Homo sapiens: one gene and its partner. The protein of the gene in region 1 purifies or fractionates together with the protein of each later gene. This does not show direct contact. Each region holds a gene or a part of one and is shown on either strand. Other genes may lie near its edges.

What was found.
Region 2: the proteins of ZNF74 (region 1) and P3H2 purify together in Homo sapiens (co-immunoprecipitation; 2 studies listed by BioGRID and IntAct, with this or other methods). This does not show direct contact.

The regions. Positions count from the first base shown.
Region 1 is NC_000022.11:20,389,282-20,397,241, reverse strand, and holds the start of ZNF74 (zinc finger protein 74), read right to left. Parts: upstream 3,092-7,960; 5' UTR 2,614-3,091; coding exon 2,580-2,613; intron 1,910-2,579; coding exon 1,824-1,909; intron 1-1,823. UniProt on the Homo sapiens protein: May play a role in RNA metabolism.
Region 2 is NC_000003.12:189,984,839-189,992,428, reverse strand, and holds part of P3H2 (prolyl 3-hydroxylase 2 isoform a precursor), read left to right. Parts: intron 1-3,390; coding exon 3,391-3,522; intron 3,523-4,759; coding exon 4,760-4,902; intron 4,903-5,551; coding exon 5,552-5,641; intron 5,642-7,590. UniProt on the Homo sapiens protein: Prolyl 3-hydroxylase that catalyzes the post-translational formation of 3-hydroxyproline on collagens. Contributes to proline 3-hydroxylation of collagen COL4A1 and COL1A1 in tendons, the eye sclera and in the eye lens capsule.

The DNA of each region.
Region 1 (7,960 bases):
AAGCCAGGTGTGGGGGCACACACGTTGGTCCCAACTACTTAGGAGGCCGAGGTGGGGGATTTGCTTGAGCCCAGGAGTTGAAGGCTGCAGTGAGCTATGATTGTGCCACTGCACTCCAGCCTGGGCGACAGAGCAAGACTCTGTCTCAAAAAAAAAAAAAGAAAAAGAAAGAAAAACAAAAAAATAGCTCCACAGGTATCAGAATATGGTGTTGGCCAGTGAGGCTGTCAGAGGCTACATGGCTTCAGTGTGGGGAGCAAAACCAGCAAGAGTAGGGTAGGGTCTGAGGCCCGCACAGGCCTTTTTGATGGGTATTTCTGGCCACTGGGAGAAGTCCATGTCTAATGTGTCATCATTCTGCAGGGAAAGGAATAAAAAACCCAGACAGTATGCATTGGAATCAGATGCTGATGTGGTAATGACACTAGCAGAGAAGTCAGAACAGACCACACAAGATGTCCCAGGAGACAGAACAACTTGAACTGTGAGTGAGAATGAGACTGTCAAGAGAAAATGCCAAAGCTGATGTGTACTCAGGAGAGTCAACTGGTTATTCAAAGATCTAACAAGCTAATATTTTAGGAATAGGAATAACACATGCATGAGGGCCCTACCACCTAGACGGAGCTGCACAGACACATACAGACATACATACATGCACACACATTTTTTTTTGCTGAACCATTTGAAGGTAAGTTGCAGACATCATGATGTCTCACTCTACAGTCTTCAGCTTGTATCTCCTGTGGATATTCTCTTACATAATCACAGTACTATTATCACATGCAATAAATTTCATATTGATACAATATGACCTAAGATACAGCCCATTTTCAAATTTCCTCTTGTCCCAAACTGCCCTTTATCAATTTTTTTGGATCTATCCCCTAAGCAAGGAACATGCATTGCATTTGACTGTCAAGTTTCTTGAGGACTATAAAGCATTGTGACACACTACAGAAGTGAGGCACAGCTCACAATACACGTTTTGCAGCTGTTTCTAGCTGGCTATAATCTGCCATCACCTCTTTTGAGTGGCAGACTGACAAAATCACAAAATGCTAAAAAAAAAACAAAAACCCAAAGACCCCTTATTCCTCCACATCTTTCACTCTACTGTGCTCTCTTTGTCAACTGCACCCTTCTAAATACAACCATGGGGTGAGGTGGTTGCGGTAGAAAAACAAAATGAGGAACAGAGTTCACAGTCTGTAAAAGGAGGGATCTGGGTCCCATTTGGCTGCAGAAGTTCCCAGGGCCAATTCCTTGCTGAGCCCCCAGATTCTCTAAATCTCCAGGACTCTCCATGAAGGCCCCATGCCAGGGGCTGGGTACAGAGGAAAGCACACAGGGATGTGTCCCCTACCGCCACTCTTAACCAAGTGCTGCAATCCAGCCCTTCCTGAGCTGCTCCACGTGCCCCTGTCTGATTCCAGTCCCAGTAAACCAACCGTGCAAACATCCTGCACCAACCCCTGGCCAGCACGTGGATAGGCAAAGCGACCCCATGTGAGCCGTCAACTACTTTCTCAGATTCCACTAAAACCACTCCTCAGAGCTCCCAGCACAGCGCTGGGCAGAGAGATCCCCAGCAACTGACCCACTGAATTGGACTGGGCGAGACATTCAATAGAGCACATCTCGAGGGCACACCTCGGGCAACATCTGGACTCTTCACTTGGAGCTGTTCCCACTGCCCAGAGCTTCCTGAGGACTGGCCAGCAGGTACCCGGGTGAAGGTCTGTGGAAGGCTGACGATCCAGGGCTGGGGAGGGAATGTGCCAACCCTCTTCATAAAGAAGGAAGAACACACAGCCACTCACCTTGGACCTGGCTTCGGGAAGACCCCAACCCGATATATCCTCGAGATTCTCTTTCAGGGAAAGAGCAGGATCCTGAGAGGAAAGAGCTGGCGAAGGAGAAATGAGTCAAGGTCACGGCTACCAGGCTCACGGCTGAGCTTAAAGCCCACCTGTCGTGGCACAAGTGAGAATCAGAGAGGAGGCAGAACCTGCCAGCAAGGCCAGGTGGGGAACGAGCCCCAGTAGCTAGCACCAACAGAAACAGCATCGAGGAATAATCTGCCTGTGTCTCAGACACTCCAATTCATGACGAAAAGAGCTGCTACCCCCAATCAAGCACGTCTGAGTGGGAACAAATGATTGGGCGCGGGGAAGAAAGAAGCAGGAGGCCAGGAGCGATGGCTCACGCCTGTAATCCCAGCACTTTGGGAGGCCGAGGCGGGCGGATCGCTTGAGCTTAAGACCAGCCTGGGAAACATGGCAAAACCCCGTCTCTACTAAAAATACAAACATTAGCCGGGCGTGGTGGCGCGCGCCTGCAATCCCAACTACTTGGGAGGTTGAGGCGGGAGAATAGTTTGAACCCGGGAAGCAGAGGTTGCAGTGAGCGGAGATCAAGCCATTGCACCACTCCCGCCTGGGTGACAGAGTGAGATTCCATTTAAAAAAAAAAAAAAAGATGCTGGATGCTTCTGGGAAACTGGCCTGATCTCTCTGAGTGTCAATATCCTCAAGTGCAAATCCACAGACATACTGACTACAAGAGTGAAGCTGTACCTGTCTTCTCGGGCTCCGGGGCAGGGATCTCCATGGCCTCCACGGCAGCCTCCCCAGGAGGAGTGGGCAGCTGTGTAGCCTCCAGGATCCAGGGCAGGCCCTGAAGAGCGAGTACTGCTCCTGGGGCTGAGGGGCCTGCAGCGGAGCCCCGCGGGGCGGCCACGCGCTCACAGCTGCACGATCACACGCACGGAGCCCCCTCCCCGCGCCCGGCTGAGGTGGGGTTCAGGCCGGCTCCGCAGATACCCACTCCCCACACCAGGCTCAGCCCCATGCTCGGCGCACTCACGCCCCGGCACACCCCCGCCACACGCTCCTCCCGGCGAACCCGCGCTCGGAGACCAGGGCCAGGCCTAAGGTTCCGCGGCCAGGAGCCATCGGACGCGGAGCGACCAGCGGACAGGTCCCGAAGCGGACAGAGACCGCCGACGGTCTGAGGGACCGGCAAGTGGACAGACCGGACTCCCACAAAAGGACTGCGACTGCCACAAAGAGCAGCAGGCGGCCGCTGCGGGAAAGCGCGCCTGCGCGAAATAGGCGCAAACTACACCTCCCGGGAGCGTTTGCGCCGCGCAGGCGTCAGACTCCATTTCCTAGAGCGAGTTCGGGCCGGTGCTTGCGTCCCGACGCGAACGAGTATCTAGCACATCCTTCTAGGAAATGTAGTTCCTGGGCCCACAGCCGGGAGCTCCGGCACCCACCATGCTCTTGCGGGCGGATGTCGCTGTGTATCTCCGTGTGCGGATCAGTGTAGTGCCGCTGCATGGGTGTCTAATTGCGAGGATACTGGGAGGGCGGTGTCCAGGAACTAGAATTTGTCCTGTTAGTTCGTCCACGTCCCCACGTAGCTGGGAGTCGGGTGGGTTCCTGCCCACATCTGTCTGCAGGAAAGACTCAAGCCCCTGGTCTTACGGATATTGGGAGTGGTGGGTCTGGCCTCGAGGGGTTTTCCAGGGGCCCTGCCCCCACTCCCCCTTCTCGAGCCACATATCTGAGGCCCATGGGCGCGGGTCCCCAGAGGTGGGAGAGCCTTGGCCTAGTCCCCCCAGAGGGTCCTGTCCACAGTTCACCCCTGGGGCGGGAAAGGAAGGTCTGGGTGGCGGCCCAGTCCTGGCGGCACAGAGCTCTGCCATGAACACAGTGATGACGCCAGCGACAGAAACATTGAATATGTACTGAGCACCAACCAAACGCCAGGCCTACTTCAAGAGCTTGGAGTACATTTTTCTGGCAGAATGCTCACAGCAGTCCAGGGAGGTTTGCTAACTACTGTCATCCCATTTGGGAGATGAGGAAGTTGTGGTACAGGTGCGTGGGGTAACGTGTCGCAAATCACACAGCCAGAAGTAGGAATCCAGCACCGAAGTGCATTGCCACATTCCTACTGAGAGGTGGTCCGGGGTGGTGCACACTCCAAACCCTTCAGCCTCCCACCTTAACCGCAGCTTAGGCTTGGCCACAGGCTCTCACGTGACACCTGTCCACTGCCCACATCAGCACAGCTGTGCCCAGACCTCCCCTGCCCAGGGCAGCGCCCGTGTTTGATTTTGTTTTGAGACTGGGTCTCACTCTGTCGCCCAGGCTGGAGTGCAGTTGCACAATCACGGCTCACCGTAGCCTCAGTCTCTCGGGCTCAAACTATTCTCCCACCTCAGCCTCCGGAGTAGCTGGGACTTACAGACATGCACCACCACGCCCGGTTAATTTTTATATTCAGCGCCCATTTTTAATAGCAACCCAGTGAGAGGGGACAGCGTGCTGGCAGTCCTCACAGCCCTTGCTCGCTCTCGGCGCCTAGTCGGCCTTGGCGCCCACTCTGGCCGCGCTTGAGGAGCCCTTCAGCCCACCGCTGCACTGTGGGAGCCCCTTCCTGGGCTGGCTGCGGCCGGAGCCGGCTCCCTCAGCTTGCCGAGAGGTGTGGAGGGAGAGGCGCGGGCGGGAACCGGGACTGCGCGCAGCGCTTGCGGGCCAGCACGAGTTCCGGGTGGGCGTGGGCTCAGCGGGCCCCGCACTCGGAGCTGCCAGCCGGACCCGGGCAGTGAGGGGCTTAGCACCTGGGCCAGCAGCTGCTGTGCTCGACTTCTCGCCGGGCCTTCGTTGCCTCCCCGCGGGGCAGGGCTCGGGACCTGCAGCCCGCCATGCCTGAGCCTACCCACCGCCGTGGGCTCCTGCGCGGCCCAAGCCTCCCCGACAAGCGCCGCCCCCTGCTCCACGGCGCCCAGTCCCATCGACCACCCAAGGGCTGAGGAGTGCGGGCGCACGGCGCGGGACTGGAAGGCAGCTCCACCTGCGGCCCCGGTGCGGGATCCACTGGGTGAAGCCAGCTGGGCTTCTGAGTCTGGTGGGGACTTGGAGAACCTTTATGTCTAGCTAAGGGATTGTAAATACACCAGTGGGCACTCTGTGTCTAGCTTAAGGTTTGTAAACACACCAATCAGCACCCTGTGTCTAGCTCAGGGTTTGTGAATGCATCAATCGACACTGTATCTAGCTACTCTGCTGGGGACTTGGAGAACCTTTATGTCTAGCTAAGGGGTTGAAAATACACCAATCGGCACTCTGTATCTAGCTCAAGGTTTGTAAACACACCAATCAGCACTCTGTGTCTAGCTCAGGGTTTGTGAATGCATCAATCAACACTGTATCTAGCTACTCTGGTGGGGACTTGGAGAACCTTTATGTCTAGCTAAGGGATTGTAAATACACCAATTGGCACTCTGTATCTAGCCCAAGGTTTGTAAATGCACCAATCAGCACTCTGTGTCTAGCTCAGGGTTTGTGAATGCACCAGTGGACACTCTGTATCTAGCTAATCTAGTGGGGACGTGGAGAACTTTTGTGTCTAGCTCTTTGGGTCCACGCTGCCTTTATGAGCTGTTAACACTGCGAAGGTCTGTAGCTTCACTTCTGAAGCTAGCGAGACCACGAACGCACCAGAAGGAAGAAACTCCGCGCACGCTGCGTTTAAGAACTGTGACACTCACCACGAGGGTCTGTGGCTTCATTCTTGAAGTCAGTGAAACCAAGAACCCACCAATTCTGGACACACCAGGACAAGAGCCTTGGTGGGGTATAGAACTGTTGATTACACAGTGCATGAGTCTATGTGTAAGTTTGTGTATGTGTTTGTTTCTCTGTGTATCTTACAGGTGTAGGTGTGGGTCCGCTTTTGCCTCACATTTCTTATGTGTTTCTGTCCTGGTGTGCCTCTGTGAAACAATGTGTACGTGCACCTGTGCACAGGTGACTCTATGAGTGTGTATGTGGGCACTGTCTCAACAGTTCTGGAGTCTGGATACGTGTTTGTGTGCAGGCTTGTGTACATGGGACAGGAACCTGTACATGGGAGTGGAACTTGTGTGCACGGTGTGCTTGCTGATGAGTCTAATGTGATTATCTGTTGGCATCTGGCTGTTGACTAACAGGTCAGGTCTGAGTCTTTCTTTTTTTGTTTTTGAGATGGAGTCGCGCTCTGTTGTCCAGGCTGGAGTGCAGTGGCGCAATCTCAGCTCACTGCAATCTCTGCCTTCTGAGTAGCTGGGACTACAGGTGCCCGCCATCACACCCGGCTAATTTTTTTGTAATTTTAGTAGAGATGGGGTTTCACCATGTTAGCCAGGATGGTCTCAATCTCTTGACCTCGTGATCCACCCGCCTCGACCTCCCAAAGTGCTAGGATTACAGGCCTGAGCCACCATGCCTGGCTGGGTCTGAGTCTTTCTGTATAAGTGCACATGTGTATGTGTGTGTGTGCCTCACTGTTTACACAGATCTGAATGTATGACTGGCATATCTGTGCATGTAACTCTGCAGTTCATCTCTGTAGATTGTGGATGTATCATCTATGTCTGCTTGCCTGAGTGTGTTCTGTGTGATAGTGAGTAGATGCCTTACGCCAGTGACTATGGACGGCGTCTTGTTCAGGTGAATTTGTAGACCTGTGTGTGTGTGTGGTTCTCTCAAAGTTCTAGTTTGTTGTGAGATGGTATGCACCTCTTTTCATTTGTGGGGCTGTAGACCTCGCAGGTCCAGTTGTGGCTGTGTGTGTGCCTGCATGTGTTCTTCTGTATGCCACTCTGTGTTGACTTCCAGGGCTCATCAGTGTCAGTACGTGCATCCTTGTGTACATGTGTATGTCACTGTGGGCCTCATGGATCCCCTGTGTCTGTAGGAAAGCCAGTGTGAGCCCAGGGATTCTATATTGAGTGCTCTGTCACCTGTGTCTCTGCAAAGGCTGTAGGGACAGGGATGTGTTCAGCCTGAAGGGAAGAGTGGAAGGGAGGATGCTGTTACTGCTTTCTGCTCACTATAGACTTCTGAGGATGGGAAAGGCATTTACCGCAAGACAATTTAGCCTAAGATTCTCACTTACATAAGAAGTCCCAGGTCATGTTCTTGTTCCTAAGTTCTCTGATTCCTCAATTCTCGAGGGTTGACTAGCAGGGCTGTGTGAAGGCCCAGTGAAATAATGGATATATATGCCCTTTTTTTTTTTTCCTGAGATGGAGTCTCACTCTGTTGCCCAGGCTGGAGTGCAGTGGTACCATCTCGGCTCACTGCAATCTCCGTCTCCCGGGTTCAAGCAATTCTCCTGCCTCAGCCTCCCTAGTAGCTGGAACTACAGGCACCTGCCACCACGCCTGGCTAATTTTTGTATTTTTGGTAGAGATGGGTTTCACTATGTTGGCCAAGCTGGTCTCGAACTCCTGACTTCAGGTGATCTGCCTACCTTGGCCTCCCAAAGTGCTGGGATTACAGGCATGAACCACCATGCCTGGCCTAAAGGCTTTTAAAATTCACTTATATAAGCTGACTTAGTTTTCTTTAACTTTGTAGAAAAATACAAAAATGGCAATCTCTTTTATCACACAAATGTCTTTTTAATAGAGTTTTTTTCTAATTGATGTATTATGTATTTTTCATTCACTAATTATTAATTGCTTACATTTGAAGTGTTTGATGAATTAATATTTAATTGCATAGATGAAGATGACTAGTCATAGGCATTTTACTAACCAATACTCATTGGATTCATGTGATGTTGCAGGCCGAAAGAGGGAGGGTCATGATCAACTCGGTGTACCACTGGAGGTTATATGAGTAAACAGTAAACTGTTCTCATGAATGCAGAATGTTGGCAAACTGCGTCTGCCACCCAGAGGGAATGCTGAGGGCAGTCATGCCCCAGGCGCGGCGTTTCTTGAGATTAGGCACATCTGAAACCTGTTAGCAATAATGTGAACCTGTGATCAATTGAGAAGCTGACCAATCATTACCTCCTGCTCCCTGCTCTTTCTACTCAATAAATATGAAGGGCTGTAGAAGCTCAGGGCTGCTGCCCTTGCTCACTAGAAGCTGGGAGCCCTCTTCTTCTTCCCTGG
Region 2 (7,590 bases), on another chromosome or scaffold:
CAGTGCTTTCAGTCTTCCTAAAAAGCACTACTCATCCGGGCGCGGTGGCTCATGCCTGTAATCCTAGCACTTTGGGATTCTGAGACAGGTGGATCACATGAGCTCAGGAGTTTGAGACTAGCCTGGCCAACATGGTGAAACCCCATCTCTACTAAAAATATAAAAAATTAGGCAGGTGTGGTGGTGGGTGCCTGTAATCCCAGCTACTTAGGAGGCTGAGGCAAGAGAATCACTTGAACCTTGGAGGCCGAGGTTGCAGTGAGCCGAGATGGTGCCATTGCACTCCAGCCTAGGCAATAAGAGCGAAACTCCATCTCAAAGGAAAAACAAACAAACAAACAAAAAGCACTACTCACCTAATAACTCAAACCAAGTTACCTTTCAATCCAACATCTTCCTTAATTCCTATTCCCATATGATTTTTTACCAAACTTGGATAGAGGTTATCTCCTAATAGCACTGAACACTTCCTAACTCCCTCCACCCCTTTTGCTACCACCCTGGCTCAAAGCAACAGTGATTGCCTCCTTGTTGCTCTTCATGTCCTGTTCTGGTTTTGCTCCAAATGCCCACAGAGCAGTCTCTAAAAAAACAAAATTCTGCTCACAGATCTGGTTTAAACACCCCAAATGGTTTACACTCCACTTGGAATAAAATCCAATTCTTTAATAAGAACTTTCATGATTGGGCACTTGTGTATGTTTTCATTCATTCTCTCTCTCCCTCTCACTCTCTCTCCTGCTTTTTGATTCCTTAAATATGCCATGCTTATTTCCACTTACAGATCTTCAAAGTGTTGTTTTCTTCTATCTCTCGGCTAAAGCCTTGTCCTGTTTAGTGCTCAATCTTCAGTGCCTAAGAAGAGTGAGTGGCAAATAGTAGATACTTACTTAGTAAATACTGGTTAAATGAATGGGTTGATTAATGAATGAATGAAGGAAGGAGATGATATATCCATCTATCTCATAGCAGGGATTAAAATGGTTAAATACTCCATGTTTATGAGAATGTAGGTTTAGGATTATTGTTAAGAATTATTTTTAAGGTTTCTTATAGAGACAATTAGGGTATAGCTATCAAAAATTAGACTAGGAAGTAGACTGAAAATTAATGTGACGAATGACCAATTTGTGACACACCCAGTTACCCAAAATCAACTCAGTTCACCTAAATTCAATACAGCAATCTCAATTATTGAGGATATTTTCCTGAAAGTTTTATTTTTTTGGATCTCTGCCAGATCCAGTTGCCTAAATTTTTGGAATGTCAGTTTTATGTGTGGTTCACATTTTAATTGCTATTTCTCTACACTTGATCTTGTATTTGGGAATGGCAGATTCTTCCTTTATTATAGTTAACTGTGTTGTGGTTGTGGGGAGATATGCATCCTGCTTTCACGCCCACATTCGCCTCTACACCTGCTTCCACCAATGGCCACTGAACAGTTTTGGCCAATGTCCTAGATCTGGTTTAGGAAAATGGACCGACGATTTCCCACAGATGAATATTTAGTGATTTGCTCAAGGTCACCACAGCATGTCGGTAGCTGGAAAAGAATAGAGATCTCATAACTCAGGTTCTTTAATTTTTAAGACTCAAACTTATTAAAAACATATTAATTGCACAATGTCATTTAAGATAGAAAGGAGGCAAGGGATATACCTAATAAAAGTAATATGACAGCTCTCACTATGTAAATTCTTGTCTGCTTCAAAATTGTCCTAAATTAGGTATAAAACTGGCTTTTTAAATAGCAAATGTATTAGAAAATCAGAATATTTGAATTTTAGAGTTAGACATTAACAGTTCGGGAAAAATACAAATGGCTGCTGAATGCAGTTATTTATTACTAGCTCTGCTATGAAACCCTAAAGGATACCTTTCTGTCACTCCTATTTTGCTGCTATTTGTATCCGCTTTGAAAAAATATTTCCATTCAGATTTTGAGTTCTCGGTGGGTATCTTTCGCCTTTACCTTTTGCTTGTCACTTGGAATTAAAAGGAATGTGTATTAGAAAGTAAATAGAAATGCAAATGGTAAGTTGAGTAGGAGAAAACAGTTGAAGGTTGTTTATTTTTGTTTTCTTAAGAAATGAAACAGCTGGTTATTTATTTCTAACATGCTAATCAAATAAATAGAACTCATTCTTCCTTCACATCCCCTGACTGGGGTTAATAACCAATGGGCTTTAGGGATTCTATTAGCTGTGCTATAAATGATTCAGTTAGCCAAGTTATACAAAACTGGCACATTCCCCCACACCAGAAAATGCACGTTTCCTTCCTGTTGTGTTTTGGGGTCCCTCTGCAAAATCACCAAGATCCAAGCCAAACTCAGACTAAACAGAGAACCTTTTGAAAAAAAGGCAGTTGTGGTAAATTAAATTGCACAGCTATGAGATCAAATGATTTTATCATCATTCTCAAAAGAACCCACTCAGCGCAGCCATGAATGAATCTTTCTTGCTGGAAAATACATCCATCTTCATTGTAAAAATCAGTCAAGGTGAAACGTAGGAGGCATTTTCTTCTCTGGGACATTCACCACTTGTGTTTCCTCATCTCAGGCTTTGATAAAATAGAGTCCAGAGCCAAAGGTGGCATGAAGACCCTAACACTTCAGGACTCTCAAGCAAGAAGAATGGGAGCAATAGAAAGGGGAGTGAAGAGAAATAGGAAATAAGATGCTCATTCCTTTAGTTTACATCCTTCTGCCTGTTTTACCAGTCTCTGGTAAAGAATATACAATGTACTTAGTATTAGAATATACTATGTCTAGGCGATAGACTAATTTATAACTGGATAGAATAGGTTTCTGACCAATAGGTTTAAAAAAAAAGAGTTTTTATTTCTCTTTTAGGACAATTTGGCTTGAAAATGTTAAGAAAGAAAAAGAGCACTTTTGCTTCACTTCTCAGCCTGAATTTTCCATGCCCATGGTGGTTTCTTTTTCCAAACTGTTCCTTAACATTTACTAGCATCTGAACTTCCATTCCCGATTCCAGGGCACTTCGAGCCATCCAAGATATCCAAAGAGAGACCCCAAAGTTGTTAAATATGAAAACTGACATTCAGCTGGGTGTAGGTGGGGTAAAGTGGACTGTGGGGTATAAAAAGTGTACATGGGAAGGGAAAAGTGAGGTGTAGAGAACAGACTGTGAGCTGGAGGATTCGGAATCTACTGTCGTTCTAGTGATCGCTGACCAGGAGACCTTGGCAAGTCACCTACTTTCTTTGTAAAAAGGTTTTGCAGTCCGGAAGTGAGGATTATAATAATTTGGTCTTCCAGTGTGGTGAGGTGAGGAATGACCTGTGTAACTGTGGCTGTGACGTTGACGTTTGGGCACTCAGCAACCTGGAGGAACACACGTATTGGCTCTTGTCTTCCAGATCACTACATGCAGGTGCTTGTTTGTCAGCATGAATGTGTGAGGGAACTTGCCACCCGCCCTGGCCGCCTCTCTCCCATCGAGAATTTTCTTCCTCTGCACTATGATTACCTACAGTTTGCCTACTATCGAGGTAAAGCGTGGATCATCCGTGAAGACTTCTTGGGGGGTTGTGGTTCATCATTACAGACATCACATTTTTGTAATTGAGTTTTCTGACTTCTTCAGTTTATTATGAAAGCAATAGGAATTTATGCATTTCTTCTCTCCTGAGCTGCAGGACAAGAAGAGCAGAAGGGGATATCACCAATGGGCAAAGTACAAAATTTAATGCTGTGATAATTTACTGAAAATTATACTAGATTGACATTTTGCATGGTTTTTTAGACTTAATTTTTTTAGAACTGAATTTAAAAGGAACTTTGCAAAATCCTCTTCCTTTCCAAAAACAAAACATTATTTATTATCCTGGCGTTGATGGCACACAGTGAATCACGTGCTCAAGTCATAAACAGTGAATCAAAGATGAGAGAGTTGCTTAATTTTTATCATTCCTTTTAAAAATCAGAGTCATCTCAGAGTATATATATATGTGTGTGTGTGTGTGTATGTATTTATTATACACACATACATGCACACACACACATATATATACACACATACGTATATTGTAAATTTCCATTAGAAGAAATACAATGTTGTGAACTATTTGAAAACAAGGCATACAGACATTTAAAATTTCCCTTGTAATAGCTAAATATTTCTATAATGAAAAGTTTATATTGGAAACATCCTTGTTAGTTCCTTTTAGTAGTTTGCTACTGTAGGATGTGCTATAATTGTATAGTGAAGGATTTAAGGGGCTTCCTCCAGAACATCTGGGACTCTATGAAGGACTTTGCATTGAAGTACCAGTTTACCACAAACTGCAGCAATGAAAAATAACATTTTAAAAGCACTTATGTTACTCATACATTATATATAAAATGGTACATTACTGTTGCAAAGATCACCTTCAGGATGTTTACTTAACCCAAACTCGGTACAAAAATCAGAATTAACTCATAGAATTCTGCTGTTTATATGTGTTAAATAATAAAAGTTGTCAACAAACATCTTCAGATAGAAACTTGACGATTTGCACAAAACAACTAGTACCAAAGCAGACCAAAGGTAATAACTTTTGAATACTTGAAATCATGTCTTTCCTTTTATCTGTGACTGTTTCTGCTTTCTCTGCTGAGCCTCAATTTATCTTCCCTCTTATTCATGTTTAATGCTGACCTTTGTAGACACGTTGATGGCCTCCCTTTAAAATCCTTTGGACAGACCTAGGCTGACTCTAATGCTGCAACTCCTTTGTCTTTCAGTTGGTGAGTATGTGAAAGCCCTGGAGTGTGCCAAAGCCTATCTTCTATGCCATCCAGATGATGAGGATGTCCTAGACAATGTGGATTACTATGAGAGTCTGCTGGATGATAGCATTGACCCGGCATCCATTGAGGCCAGAGAGGTGAGACCAATGTTTTGAAAAGAAATTCTTTTTTTTTTTTTTTTTTTAAGACAGAGTTTCGCTCTTGTTGCCCAGGCTGGAGTGCAATGGCACAATCTTGGCTCACCGCAACCTCCGCCTCCCGGGTTCAAGCGATTCTCCTGCCTCAGCCTCCCTAGTAGCTGGGATTACAGGCACATGCCACCACACCCGGCTAATTTTGTATTTTTTTTTTAGTAGAGACGGGGTTTCTCCATGTTGGTCAGGCTGGTCTCGAACTCCCGACCTCAGGTGATCTGCCCGCCTCGTCCTCCCAAAGTGCTGGGATTACAGGCGTGAGCCACCGCGCCTGGCCTGAAAAGAAATTCTTGATTCTGCATGTGTTCGGGGGAGAGTTGATAAAAATATGACACTGGTCTTAAAGATGTCTAACAATTTAGCAAAGGTTGTTGAACTCGGTTCTTTCAAACTTTATTTATGCCTGAAGCACATTTTTATTCATACATGCTAGCGTGTGAAAGTATGTTGAGATGGGGCCAAGTCTTGCAGTTCTGAATATTTGTTAGCTCATTTGTGACTATCTAATGAAAATATTGCCACCTGAACATTTATCATATCTCTTACCTGCTATTTAAATAAAAAATGTCTTTCTTTACTTCTTTTTCTCTAGGATTTAACAATGTTTGTGAAACGTCATAAGCTGGAGTCTGAGCTGATAAAATCAGCTGCAGAAGGTCTGGGGTTTTCATACACTGAACCGGTAAGAGGAAAGAGGAAACGTTTATTAAAATAATGATTCAGTGGAATCCTTTTTATGTTTTTATTACCTGCCTCCATTTTTGCCATTTACCTCAAAAAGCTAAGATTTCGATGCCCTCCTTGAGGTAAAAATTGGGGGTGGGAGATATTTACTCAATATATGTGATGAACTTTATCTATTTATTTATTTATTTATTTTGAGATGGAGTCTCGCTCTTGTCGCCCAGGCTGGAGTGCAGTGGCGTGATCTCGGCTCACTGCAACCTCCGCCTCCTGGATTCAAGCAATTCTCCTGCCTCAGCCTCCCGAGTAGCTGGGATTACAGGCACACGCCACAATGCCCAGCTAATTTTTTTTTGTATTTTTAGTAGAGATGGGGTTTCACCATGTTGGTCAGGCTAGTCTCGGACTCCTGACCTCAGGTGATCCGCCCGCCTCAGCCTCCCCAAGTGCTGGGATTACAGGCTTGAGCCGCCGCACCCGGCCATCTGATGAACTTTAAAAGACTAATGGATTTCCACATCAGTCATTCCATATTAACAAGGTCTAAAGTCAAAAGCAAATCTATTGGGTAAAAGTATTTTGTGTATGACTCATTTGCCCCGGGAGTGTTTTATTTTCCTAAATTCCGGATGTGGTGTTTTAAATTTTTCTATTAATGCTTTTATGTTACCTAAACATTAAAGAGAATTCAAAATATCATCAGTCACAATGCTATCACACCCATCATGCTGACTTCACTCCGCTTTTCCATGTTGTCTTCTAATCATTGTTTATATGAAGACATAGCTTTTGCAGAAACATATACTATGGTATAAAGAGATTTGTATTCTTTTAAGAAGATACCATAAGAAATTTCTACATTTGTATAGCTTTAAAAGGTATTTTTAGCTACATTTTAGTCTCTAAAAAGTTGGTAGAATTTAGAATTTTAGATAGGTAGAATTGACATACAATAAATAAATGAACTCTTCTGCTGAACATTTGAATTATTTCTGATTTTTGAATTATACATAATGTATTAAGCATTTTTTCTCTATTGAATTATGTCCTGAAAATAAATTCTTAAGAGTGGAATTATTCTGTCATCAAAGGATATAAGGTTTTAAACTTCTTGAAACTAAATTGCTTTTCTAAGAGAATTCTCTTAGAAATTATTTATTATTAATTTATTTATAATTATATATAATTATATATGATTACTAAGAGAATAATTCTCTTGGAATTATTTATTTGCACACTATTTTAATACTAACACTATCTCATGTGGGAAGATTTAGTGACTACTCTAAAGTCTCATAGCTCACAACAGATTGAACAGGCATTTGAATCCTAGTAATGCATAAAAGTACCATTTTACCACAAATTTATCAGCGATAAGAAATAACATTTGAAAATCACTTTTATTATTTATATATTATGTATGAAATAATACATCATTTTAACTTGTAATTTTTTTGATGACCAGCAAGAATAAACCTTTTCACATATTAACTATTTTTCCTCTTCTTTTAATTACTTGGGCATGGGTTTTATTCATTTATCCATTGGTTACTATGTAAGTTCTTCAAATGATATACAAGTTAATACATTTATAAAATTATTTATAATATGTCCATTTACAACCTTTTTTCATTTCTTATGCCGTGTTTTTATAGGCACACTTTTTAAAATGGGTTAATTTTAATGTACTATTTCTAATATAACACCTTCTAATATATTAATATTTATATCGGGCCTTACTTATTATTCTTTTAAAATTATGTTATCCAAGAGACCTTAAAATATGTTATTTACTAATTTCATGATCTATACAGATGATTACTAAAGCTCAATTTTGTTTGCTTGTTTTATTCAGCAAACATAAAGAAGTTGAACTGAATGATCTTTCAAATGTTTTTCTGCCACCAAATTCCAAGTCACTTTCTTGGACAAAAGGATGGATATCTA